Linked DNA regions of Homo sapiens. The protein of the gene in region 1 purifies or fractionates together with the protein of each later gene. This does not show direct contact. Each region holds a gene or a part of one and is shown on either strand. Other genes may lie near its edges.

The links. Proteins that work in one complex are often made in the same cells at the same time.
Region 2: the proteins of RAET1E (region 1) and SDK2 purify together in Homo sapiens (affinity purification with mass spectrometry; 2 studies listed by BioGRID and IntAct, with this or other methods). This does not show direct contact.

What each region holds. Positions count from the first base shown.
Region 1 is NC_000006.12:149,887,185-149,892,155, forward strand, and holds part of RAET1E (retinoic acid early transcript 1E isoform 1 precursor), read right to left. Parts: intron 3,851-4,971; 5' UTR 3,718-3,850; coding exon 3,633-3,717; intron 2,981-3,632; exon of another isoform or gene 2,962-2,980; coding exon 2,701-2,961; intron 2,440-2,700; coding exon 2,164-2,439; coding exon of another isoform or gene 2,156-2,163; exon of another isoform or gene 1,484-2,155; coding exon 1,314-1,483; 3' UTR 1-1,313. UniProt on the Homo sapiens protein: Binds and activates the KLRK1/NKG2D receptor, mediating natural killer cell cytotoxicity.
Region 2 is NC_000017.11:73,395,996-73,400,966, forward strand, and holds part of SDK2 (protein sidekick-2 precursor), read right to left. Parts: intron 3,295-4,971; coding exon 3,173-3,294; intron 2,435-3,172; coding exon 2,325-2,434; intron 2,191-2,324; coding exon 2,040-2,190; intron 1,488-2,039; coding exon of another isoform or gene 1,413-1,487; exon of another isoform or gene 1,048-1,412; intron 1-1,047.

The sequences.
Region 1 (4,971 bases):
TTAAATCCCTACTGTTCAGACCCAGCTTCTAAAACTGTTCTTTTGCCTCCCTTCCTACTCACCAATCCCCTTCACTATTGTCAATGGCACTGAAGTCCCAGCCTGCTTGGTTGGGGCAGTTAAGTCCTTCTCAGTCACCTTCCACCAGGGATTAAGGTGGGACCCCTTTGCCTGCAGCTCTGTGGGTGGGACCCCTTCCTATCTCAGCATATTCACTCCCTGGGTTCCTGCTGCCATCACACCACCCACCACACGAGCCCCTTCTGGACCAGTGGCCCTTATCTGACTCAAGCCATATCTTGCCAAGCCTGTTGTGACACCGATCTTGGCAAACTCACTTTTCATGTCAGGGCCCCTGCAAAACAGACACATATCTGAGTCATGGTATTCGTTTAAGCAATGAAAAGGGTAGAATCATTTCTTACATCAGAAACATTGATCCTCAGTGAGTCAGATGGAGTAGCCTATTTTTCTCATTAGAGGGAATCCTAACTTTGAACTCCACAGAGAGAGCCCCAGGAACTGTGACTTGAACCCTAGAGCTCTACTTAACTTTTCCAAATTGCTGTACTTGAAAATGTTGAGGTCTGCCTGGGTCAATTTAGAGAAGACACTATGAGGACAAAGACAGCAATGGAAGAAAGAAATGAATTCTTCATGTCAGAGCAGTGGCGGAGAAACAGGACCAAAGAGCAGAAGATGTCTGGCAATGTGTCTGGCATATAATAGTTCTCTCAGCCAGGTGTGTTGGCTCCCCCTGTAATCCCAGCGCTTTGGGAGGCCGAGGCGGGAGCATCACCTGAGGTCGGGAGTTCAAGACGAGCCTGACCAACATGGAGAAACCCCATCTCTACTAAAAATGTAGGATGTAGTTCGGCACTGTAATGTTTAGAGGGTGGTGAAAGGATTTCTTATACCACATCTTGTATGTTATCTGGGAGTAAATGCTGCAGCCACAAGCGCCACCAGCAAGTCTTCTCAGGGTGAACGGGAAAAGGGGATGGGACCTGCTGAGCTAAATCACGGTAAACGCAGACAGCAAACAAACTTTCCGTCAAAGAGCTGGATGAAACCTGGGCCGGATGGCAAGGAGACAACACCCCAGGCAGGCGTTCCAGATCTTTGACCTTGCCCCTCCTCGAGAGGAGATGATTGCTTCATCCCTCCTCTCACTGCACATTGTGCTGCCAGCCCTGCTGTGTAGTGTGGGGGCTCAAGACTAAGGCAGTGCACCATTTCTGTGGAGAGAGATGGATCAGGGAGCGGGGGCTTGGATGAGACCCATGATTCACCTCTCTTGAGTCCTTACCAGACTAAGACGTCCTCAAGGGCCAGAGACCAGCCTGCCACTCACCATTTTGCCACCAGACACAGATGAGAACAATTCCCATTAAAACTAACAGGATGAATGCCCCCAGGATGATCCATCTATCTGGTAGACTAGAAGAAGACCAGTGGATATCTGAAGCATTTACTGGTGACACTAAAAAAAAAAAAAAAAAGAAAAAAAAGCACAAGCCCTGTCACATAAAAAAAAAAAGCATAAAAATATGCTTTCCTTAGCCCCTGCTTTCCCCAGGAACACATGGTGCCCCACATAATCACTGGCTCATGTGACAGCCACTCTACCAGGCCCTGGGCCATGAAGATGAATAGGGGTTGTGCCTTGTCCTTATGGAGCTCAGATTTCTACTGAGAGAGGTAGCAAATATCCATCTGATTACCACACAGTTTCACGATTACTGTGGTTAGAACTGTTTGGAGGATGACACAATGGGTGGTGCTTAATTCTGTGTGGGGAAGGTGGGGAAGGCTTCCTAAGAAGTGGCATTAGAGCTGGTGGAAGGGTAATTATAATAGAGGAAGAGAAGGCCTGGATGTTTGCAATGACACAGATAGACTTGGGACCATTTAGCAGTGGGTCATTGTGACTGGATCATTGGTTAATGGGAAGGGGTTTCTACACTGAGGAAGAAACAGTGGGAGGTGGGATGGGAAAGGGAGGATGGTGGGAAATCCTTATAGCCATCACTGACTCTCCAGACAGGAAGCCCACGGAGAAGTCAATCAAATTTTCTATCGCACACACACACTGACACCCACACAGGGAAGGCTTTTGACCTTTAAAGGGAGCTGCCACATTCTCCCACCCAGCTCAGTTACCTGTCGGTTCTGGCATTGCCTCCCAGTGCCCTAAGAATTCCCTGAGCCAGTGATCGCAGTCTCCCTTTGAGAGCTTCCTGAAATACTTTTCCAGCCCTCTGTCTTTCTTCCATGTCTCCTTGATCTTACTGGCTTCATGATTAATTACTGTCCAGGTCATGTTCATTGCGTCAAAGAGGAGGGATTTCTCTCCATTGGTGGCGAACTGCCAGGATGCACCAGTGCACCGTTCTGCTTCACGTTGACAAAACATCTCGACTTGCAGAGTGGAAGGATCTGCAATCCAAACACAAAGCCATCATCCTCCACTCTTTGAGAAGTCCATCATCCTCCAATAGGTCAAGTGTTTCTCTGCACATTTAGGGGTCTGTATTCTTTCTGCCCAGACTTGCCCTTTCCTGCCCATTGGGTCCCATGTGCCTCTATGGTTGGGCCAATGATCAATACACAGATATACCTAAAGCCCCTCCCCATCTGTGTTCTTCCCTCCCCTCTCTTACTGCCTGCCTCTGTTTGCCCACCCCATTCCACACTTACCACTGGTCTTTATCTGGGGTTTGATGTCACAAAGGAGCATCCTGAGGTCTCGCCCCACTTCTCCCAGCGTTTGGGTCAATTCTCCCCAAGTGCTGGTGGCATATACCTTCTTCCCCAGGAGGCCCAGAGGTTTGACCATGTTGTTGTCACTGTTGTACTGAAGGAAAAGATTTTTATTCAAGAAGACCTGCGCTTCACACCAGGGCTGTCCAGGTCTGGACAATGATTTTATAGTGAAGTTGAAGCAAAGAGAGTGACCACCTGTGAGACAAAGATGCAGGTGAGGTCCAGGACAGGGGAAGAGGCCCATTAGAACCTGCGCTTCTGTGACCCAAGACTCCCTGGACTGGGCCAGGCTAGCAGAGGCGGGGCAGCTCCATCCCAGACTCCCTCAACCTTCTGGATCCCTGTTCCCATCTCTCCCTGACTGTCTGGGATGAGATACTTGATGGTACCAGGGACCCCTGGGGTGCACTTAGTGTTAATGGTGTTAACAGGAGGATTCATGTCACAAGTACTTTTAGCAACATCTACCAAGTTCTGAGGCACAAAACAGACAAGCCAGTGTATGACCTCCTGAGACTTAAACTCTAGCTGAACACACATGACATTCAATAGAAAGGAAAAAGAGGCATTTATCACAGGACACACGCTGAATTCCTGTGGGGTCCCAGATGTTCAGGAAAGTGACCTGGAGTAGAAGGCGGGGGGTAGCATTGTAGAACTGCCCTCTGTGAGCCAGTGCCTTGCCTAGGGCCTCAGGCTGTGGTCTCCCATGAACTGGGTGTAACATCCCAGGGATCCTCTTCCTCACGTCATCCTTAAGAGCAGGCACCCACTTGTCTGAAGCCTGCATGAAGCCCCATTCGCCTACCCCCTACCTTTCTCCCTCCTCCTTGTCCTCAGCCAGTTCTTGTGCTCAGGACACTCACCAACCATGATCTCCAAGGCTATTAGTAGCAACAGCAGAAACAAAAGAAGGCGCACAGGGCTAGAAGTCAGGGATATTCTTCGCATACTGTGGAGAGTAACAGGCAGGAAGCTGGGCGTGTACACATTCACCCTCACTGGTATGGTGAAGAAATGTTATCCAACAGCGTGGGTGTGGGCACTGCCCAAATTCTTTACCCTGGAACAACTGAGGTCAGGCCTGTAGAGACCCAATTAAAGAACAATTTTGTGAAGAGAGTGTTTTCCAAGTATTCAGAATATAATCATTTATTGAAAAATAAAAGAAGACATTTAAAAACAAAATTAACTTTGAATAAACTCTCTCTCCTCTCCTGTCCCTGCTGCCCCTGCAAAAAAAACCCCCTCTGGTGTGAGCAGGATGGTTGGAGGTTATGTGAGCTCCTTCTCCTTTCCTCCAGTTTCCTCTTCCCTTCTCCTCCCTGCCTCTTTTGCTTTTCCCTTTCTTCCTGGTACCCCCTGCCCATTCCTGTATTTTCTCCCATCGCCATTCTCCCCTCTCCCACTGTCCCTAACCCGTTCAAACTCTTTCCTCTTAAATGGTTGAGATTTTCTCTCACCAAGCACACCCCAGTATTAATTAAACTAGCTGCAAACAGGCAGCAAGTGGTCTACCATGACAGATGGGTTTTGTGTGTGTGTGTGTGTGTGTAATTGTAATAAAACATATTGAGTCACTCAATAAACACAGAGTGTCTACTACATGTATCAGGCACTATCATAGATGCTAATTAACGAAACTGAAATGGCCAGGCCCTCACAGTGGCTCATGCCTATAATCCCAGCACTTTGGGAGGATGAGGCAGGAGGATCACTTGAGGCCGGGAGTTCAAGACCAGCCTGGGCAACATAGTAAGACTCCATCTCTACAAAAAAAAATTTTTTTTTATTATACTTTAAGTTTTGGGTTACATGTGCAGAACGTGTAGTTTTGTTACATAGGTATATACGTGCCCTGGTAGTTTGCTGCACCCATCAACCCATCACCTACATTAGGTATTTCTCCTAATGTTACCCCTCTCCTAGCCCCCCACCCCGTGACAGGCCCTGGTGTGTGATGTTCCCCTCCCTGTGTCCATGTGTTCTCATTGGTCAACTCTCACCTATGAGTGAGAACATGTGGTATTTGGTTTTCTGATCTTGTGATAGCTTGCTGAGAATGTTGGTTTCCAGCTTTATCCACGTCCCTGCAAAGGGCATAAACTCATCCCTTTTTATGGCTGCATAGTGTTCCATGGTGTATACGTGCCACATTTTCTTAATCTATCATTGATGGACAAGTTTTGCTATTGTGAATAGTGC
Region 2 (4,971 bases), on another chromosome or scaffold:
AACCTCTACCTCCTGGGCTCAAGCAATCTCTTGCTGGGACTATAGGCGTGTGCCACTATGCCTGCTAAGTTTTGTAGAGACGAGGTTTCGCCATGTTGATCTCAAACTCCTCAGCTCAAGTCATCTGCTCGCCTCGGCCTCCCAAAGTGCTGGGATTACAAGCCACCACGCCCAACCAGCCTCCTCCTTCTTGTTTGAGTCTCACAGAAAAGAAAAGTCAGATTTCTTTGGGGCCTTAGGACTAGGCTGATGGGGCTGTGGTCACCAGCTTAAGGTTGTGTGGATGACCATGGGCAGTGCTGGTGAGAGTGGAGGTGTGCACACAGGGAGGGGAGCCCAGGGCCTGGCCTCCACTACTCTGAAGGGCACAGAGCTGGGGTGGGGGCATCTCCAGCCCTCACCTCCCCCAGTTCTGCTTCCCCAGGGGCTCTGGAGGGCCCTTGGTCCACAGGCTCACCCTAGGCTGACCCACTTTACCCCACTCCTCACCTTCGGCCCCAACCTCCCCTGCTCACTACACGCTTCCTCCCTCCTGCAGACACTTAGTGAAGCCGACCAAAGACCATTAAGATAGCAATCGATGGTCCTGAGAGCCGGAGATGGGGCTTAAGTGCAAGTTCCTTTACCTGCTGAGGAAAGGTAATGGACCACGCACCATTAAGCGTGGGCCTGAGAAGTGTCTAGGGCCCTGTGCCACATGGCAGCTGCCTTTCTATTCCCCCATGCAGTCCCTGCCCTCCGCATCAGGCTCTAACCTTTTAGTAGCTGCAAACCTTAAAGTGAGATTCAGGAAGGAAGCAGGGAGCCAGCCTGGGGTGGGGATGCCTGGGAGCAAAGAGGCAGGAGGTGGGTATAGTCACACTGTGCACGGGGCACTGAGGTGGGCCGAGACAGCTCTGCAGCTCTGCTCAGGCACCAGCCACTCTGGGAAGGGAACTGCAATCAATAACTCATATTTATCGAGGACTGACGGCGCCAAGCGCTTTCATGGCCGCTAGCATCAAGCTGTCCGCGCACAGGAACGGCAATAATGACTTCACAGTGTGGTGTGTTTGCAAGTTGTGTTTTGCACAATGAGTGAGATCTTACGTGGAAACAAAGGGTTTGTGTGGTCAGATGGGCCTGGGGAAGCAGGGTCAAGAGGGCTCCTGCTATGCTAGTGTTCCTGGATTCTCTATGGAGCTGTGGTATGTGGTGCTGTTCCCACATTTATTTGTCTAAGAATTCTTGTTTGCTCCACACGCCTCCTGGGATTGCTGCTCTGTGGGACACGTGCTGGGAAACGATGTTCCAGAGGGCCTGGTGGGGAGAAGTGGCCTGTTCTCCAGAGGATGAGACGGCAGTGTGCCCGATGGTTAGGGCTGTGGACTTGCGGGTAAAGATTCCCCGGGTTGGGACCTCAGCCCTGCTGTTCATGAAAGCACGTGGGAGGATACGGGAGAACTTGGGCGAGTGATCTGACCTCTCTTCTGCCCCGGTTTCCTCATCTGCAAAAGGGGGACCAGGATCACTCTGCTGTCACAGGCTTGTTGTCAGAACAGCGCCTGGTAGGAGAGGAAGCCTCGGTGTGTTACTGTCACTACCTCGTGCAGGATGGCCCACGGTCAGGACCCTCAACACACAGCCCGGATCTGGGGACACTCTCTGAATGCCACAGTGGCACTTGAACCCCAGACCCGCCGCTTGGGAGCTGTGTGGCTGTGGGCAAGTTCTTAACCTCTCTGAGCCTCAGTTTTCTTAGCTGTAAATTGGGATGATCATGTATCCTTTGTAAGATTATTGGGAGAATCAAATGGGATGAAAATTTAAAATGCTTGCCACTTGGCGATGCTCAGTAAACAGTATTTTTGAGCTCCTTCCTCTCATCGGCGGGCGGGGGGGCATTTGTTCGTTGGGCTAAGATGTTGATTATCAGGCATCTCATCAGAAAACAGAAAGAGAGGAGAAAGGAGCTGTAGGAATTCTGATGTGCACCTTCTAGGAGGCAATGACCAGAAGCTCATGGAGAGGTCCCACCCCTGCCCTCGAGGGAGCCTTACCATCCAGCGCAGCCACAGGCTGGTCTCACTGGCTGTGCGCAGAGACACATTGGCTGGGGCCATGTCAGGGGGTGCCTGCAGGGTCTGGATCTTTCTAGAAGGCTGACTGGGGGGGCTGGTGCCCACGATGTTCACCTGGCGCATGCGGAAGCTGGGGTTGGGGAGAGATGAGCAAGATGGTAAGGGCAGCTCACCCAACTCTCAACCCTGTCCTGGTCTGGGCCATAGCCCCCACCCACCCCCAGCCCTGAGGCTGCTGCCTTCTCCCCGGGCCAGTCTCATTACCTGTAGCAGGTGAAGGGGTTGAGGTCGGGCACCTCCATGGAGCGGGCATCGGGCTCATTGGAGAGCTGGTGGATCAGCAACCACTCCTCTCCCTCCCCAACCACGCCTACCTGGAAAAGGGCAGGATCTTAGGCCTGTCCAGCCTACAGGGCCCACACGGGGTGCTCCGAGCCCCAGTACAAGCCCTGCCAGGGAAGAAGTTGGTTCAGAACCCAGGGCTCATCTGGAGGGCACCATATGGGGCTACCATCTTTCCAGGCCCCTAAACATGACTGCAAGTGTGACTCAACCCTCCTGCCTTAGAATCTCTCAGGATGCTTGTGATCAATATATTCCTGGATTCTGGAGTCAGAATGAGTTTAAATCTAACTCCACTACTTACAGAATCCCTCGAGTGCTGCCCAGGAATCTGTGCTTTTAACAAGCAGCCCAGGTGATTCTCTTGAACACCCCGGGTACTTCCAGAGACCCAGGCTGCCCCTCAAATCAGCTAAATCAGAATCAGAGTTTCTGGGGTAGGGGCACAGGTGTTGGCGCTTCTGAACGCTCCCCTGATGATTCCAGGGTACAGCCAAGGCGGATATTTTTATATTCCAGCAACTGGGTATTTTTCTAGGCACCCCCCGACCCAGGAGGGGACTGTAGTGTGTGTGTGTTTTTCCATGTACACAGGTGAGGGGCAGGGGGAGTTGGAGACAACATTGGCAAGTGTGAGCATTTGGAGTATAATGGGCCATTGAGAGCTGCACATGAAAATTCACACAGGCCGAAATACACATAAGATTTTGCACTCAAGGGCACGGGGTGCCCTGGCGGGGGCTGCTGGTCAGGCCCCAGGCCTGCCCTACCTGGGCTTCCACCAGCCAGCGGGAGATGGAGGTTTTCCCATCGTAGCCTGGCCTGAACTGCAAGGTCACAGAGCGGGGGCCGATGTTGGAAATGCCCAGGTTGGTGGGGGGCCCTGGGAGTTCTGGAAAAGGAGAACAGGGTGGGGAAGGAGATCCGGTGAGAATGGCCCCCCATGTTGAACGGGACTGTTGGGCATGGAGGGGGCTGTGTGTCACGCTTTTCCTGGAAATGTCTGAGGAGAAGCACAGCCACGGCCCCACTCCACCCACAGTCTTTGTTCCTGTGTCTTACGGAGAACCATGTTCATGCCAGGAGGCTGAGACAGAGTTGGGGGTCAAAGGGGATCTCCTAGGGCTGAGAGGAGGCTCTCAGGGCCAGGAAACAGGGGCCGGGATGCCGCCTTCTTCCTGGCAGTTCTGGATGTGAGTGAGGTAATCATAAGGCAGCTAAAAGCTGCATTAAAACCAAGCTGTGCTGAGAAAGAAACCAAACGGGACCGATCCTCCCTTCCATCCGCCCAGACCCCTGCACACCTCCTACGCCTAATTACAGCTCAGGAAGGTGAGAGGATGGGTGGGGACAGGGGGAAGCTTATTTTCTGGCCAGGAATCCTGGGGCTCTTGGAGCTCAGGAACAACAGAAAGAACACAGATTCTGGAGTCAGAATGAGTTTAAATCTAACTCCACTACTTACAGGCTGTGTGTCTTTGCACAAGTTATCCAACTCTCTGTGCCTCCATGTCCTCCTTGGTAATGAAGAGGATAATAGCAACACCTCCCTCAGGGTTGTTGTGAGGATTAAATGAGTCAACGTGAGCAAAGCTCCCAGCACCATGCCCCGTGAACACTACATACCTATTTGCCAGCATGGCTGTAATTATCACTGGGCTTTGGCTGAGACTCAGGCAGCCCAGCCATCTACGCAGCAGGTGGAGGGATGCTGGCAGGTCAAACAAGCACTGCCTGACTGATCTGGATGGGACCACATGGTTATCTGGTCCAACTTCCCATATATACAGATGGGGAAACTGAGGCACAGAGGGGACACAGAACTTGCTCAAGGTTGTAGGGCTTGGCAGAAGCAGAGCTGAGAGTGGACCTCGGCTTGCTCTCTGTGCCAGGCCTAGGAGTAGCCCCACCGTGCTCTGCCACCTCCCAACCAACCCTTCCACACGCTGGAATCCAAGGTGGACCCTCTGGGCGACAGTGGGAAATTTTCCCCTGAATCACAGATACCATTGCCTGGTGTGGAATCTGGTGAGAAATGGGTGAAGGGAGGGACTGGTGGGGAAATGAGACAAGGCAGGGGGCCTCTGCTTTTCTGAGAGCTGTGGGAGGATGCAGCAGGGAGCCAGGGGAGCCCCTGTCCAGAGACCTGGGATCCCAGGGATTCCGCCTGCTCTGAGGGGACCCAGACCCACACAGCACAAGGGAAGGGGAGAGCCTGTGGGAAGAACGCTGGTATTCCTGAAAGACAAGGGGCCTCTTTTTATTTTTTTTTTTGAGACGCGATGTGGCCCTGTCACCCAGACTGGAGTGCAGTGGTGTGATCTCGGCTCGCTGCAACCTCTACCTCCTGGGTTCAAGCGATCTTCCATCCTCAGCCTCCCAACTAACTGGGATCACAAGCATGCACCACCACAGCTGGCTAATTTTTGTATTTTTAGTAGGGTTTTACCACGTTGGCCAGGCTGGTCTCGAACTCCTGACCTCAAGTGATACGCCTGCCTCAGCCTCCCAAGGTGCTGGGACTACAGGCATGAGCCACCACGCCCAGCCGACAAGGGGCCTCTTGAAT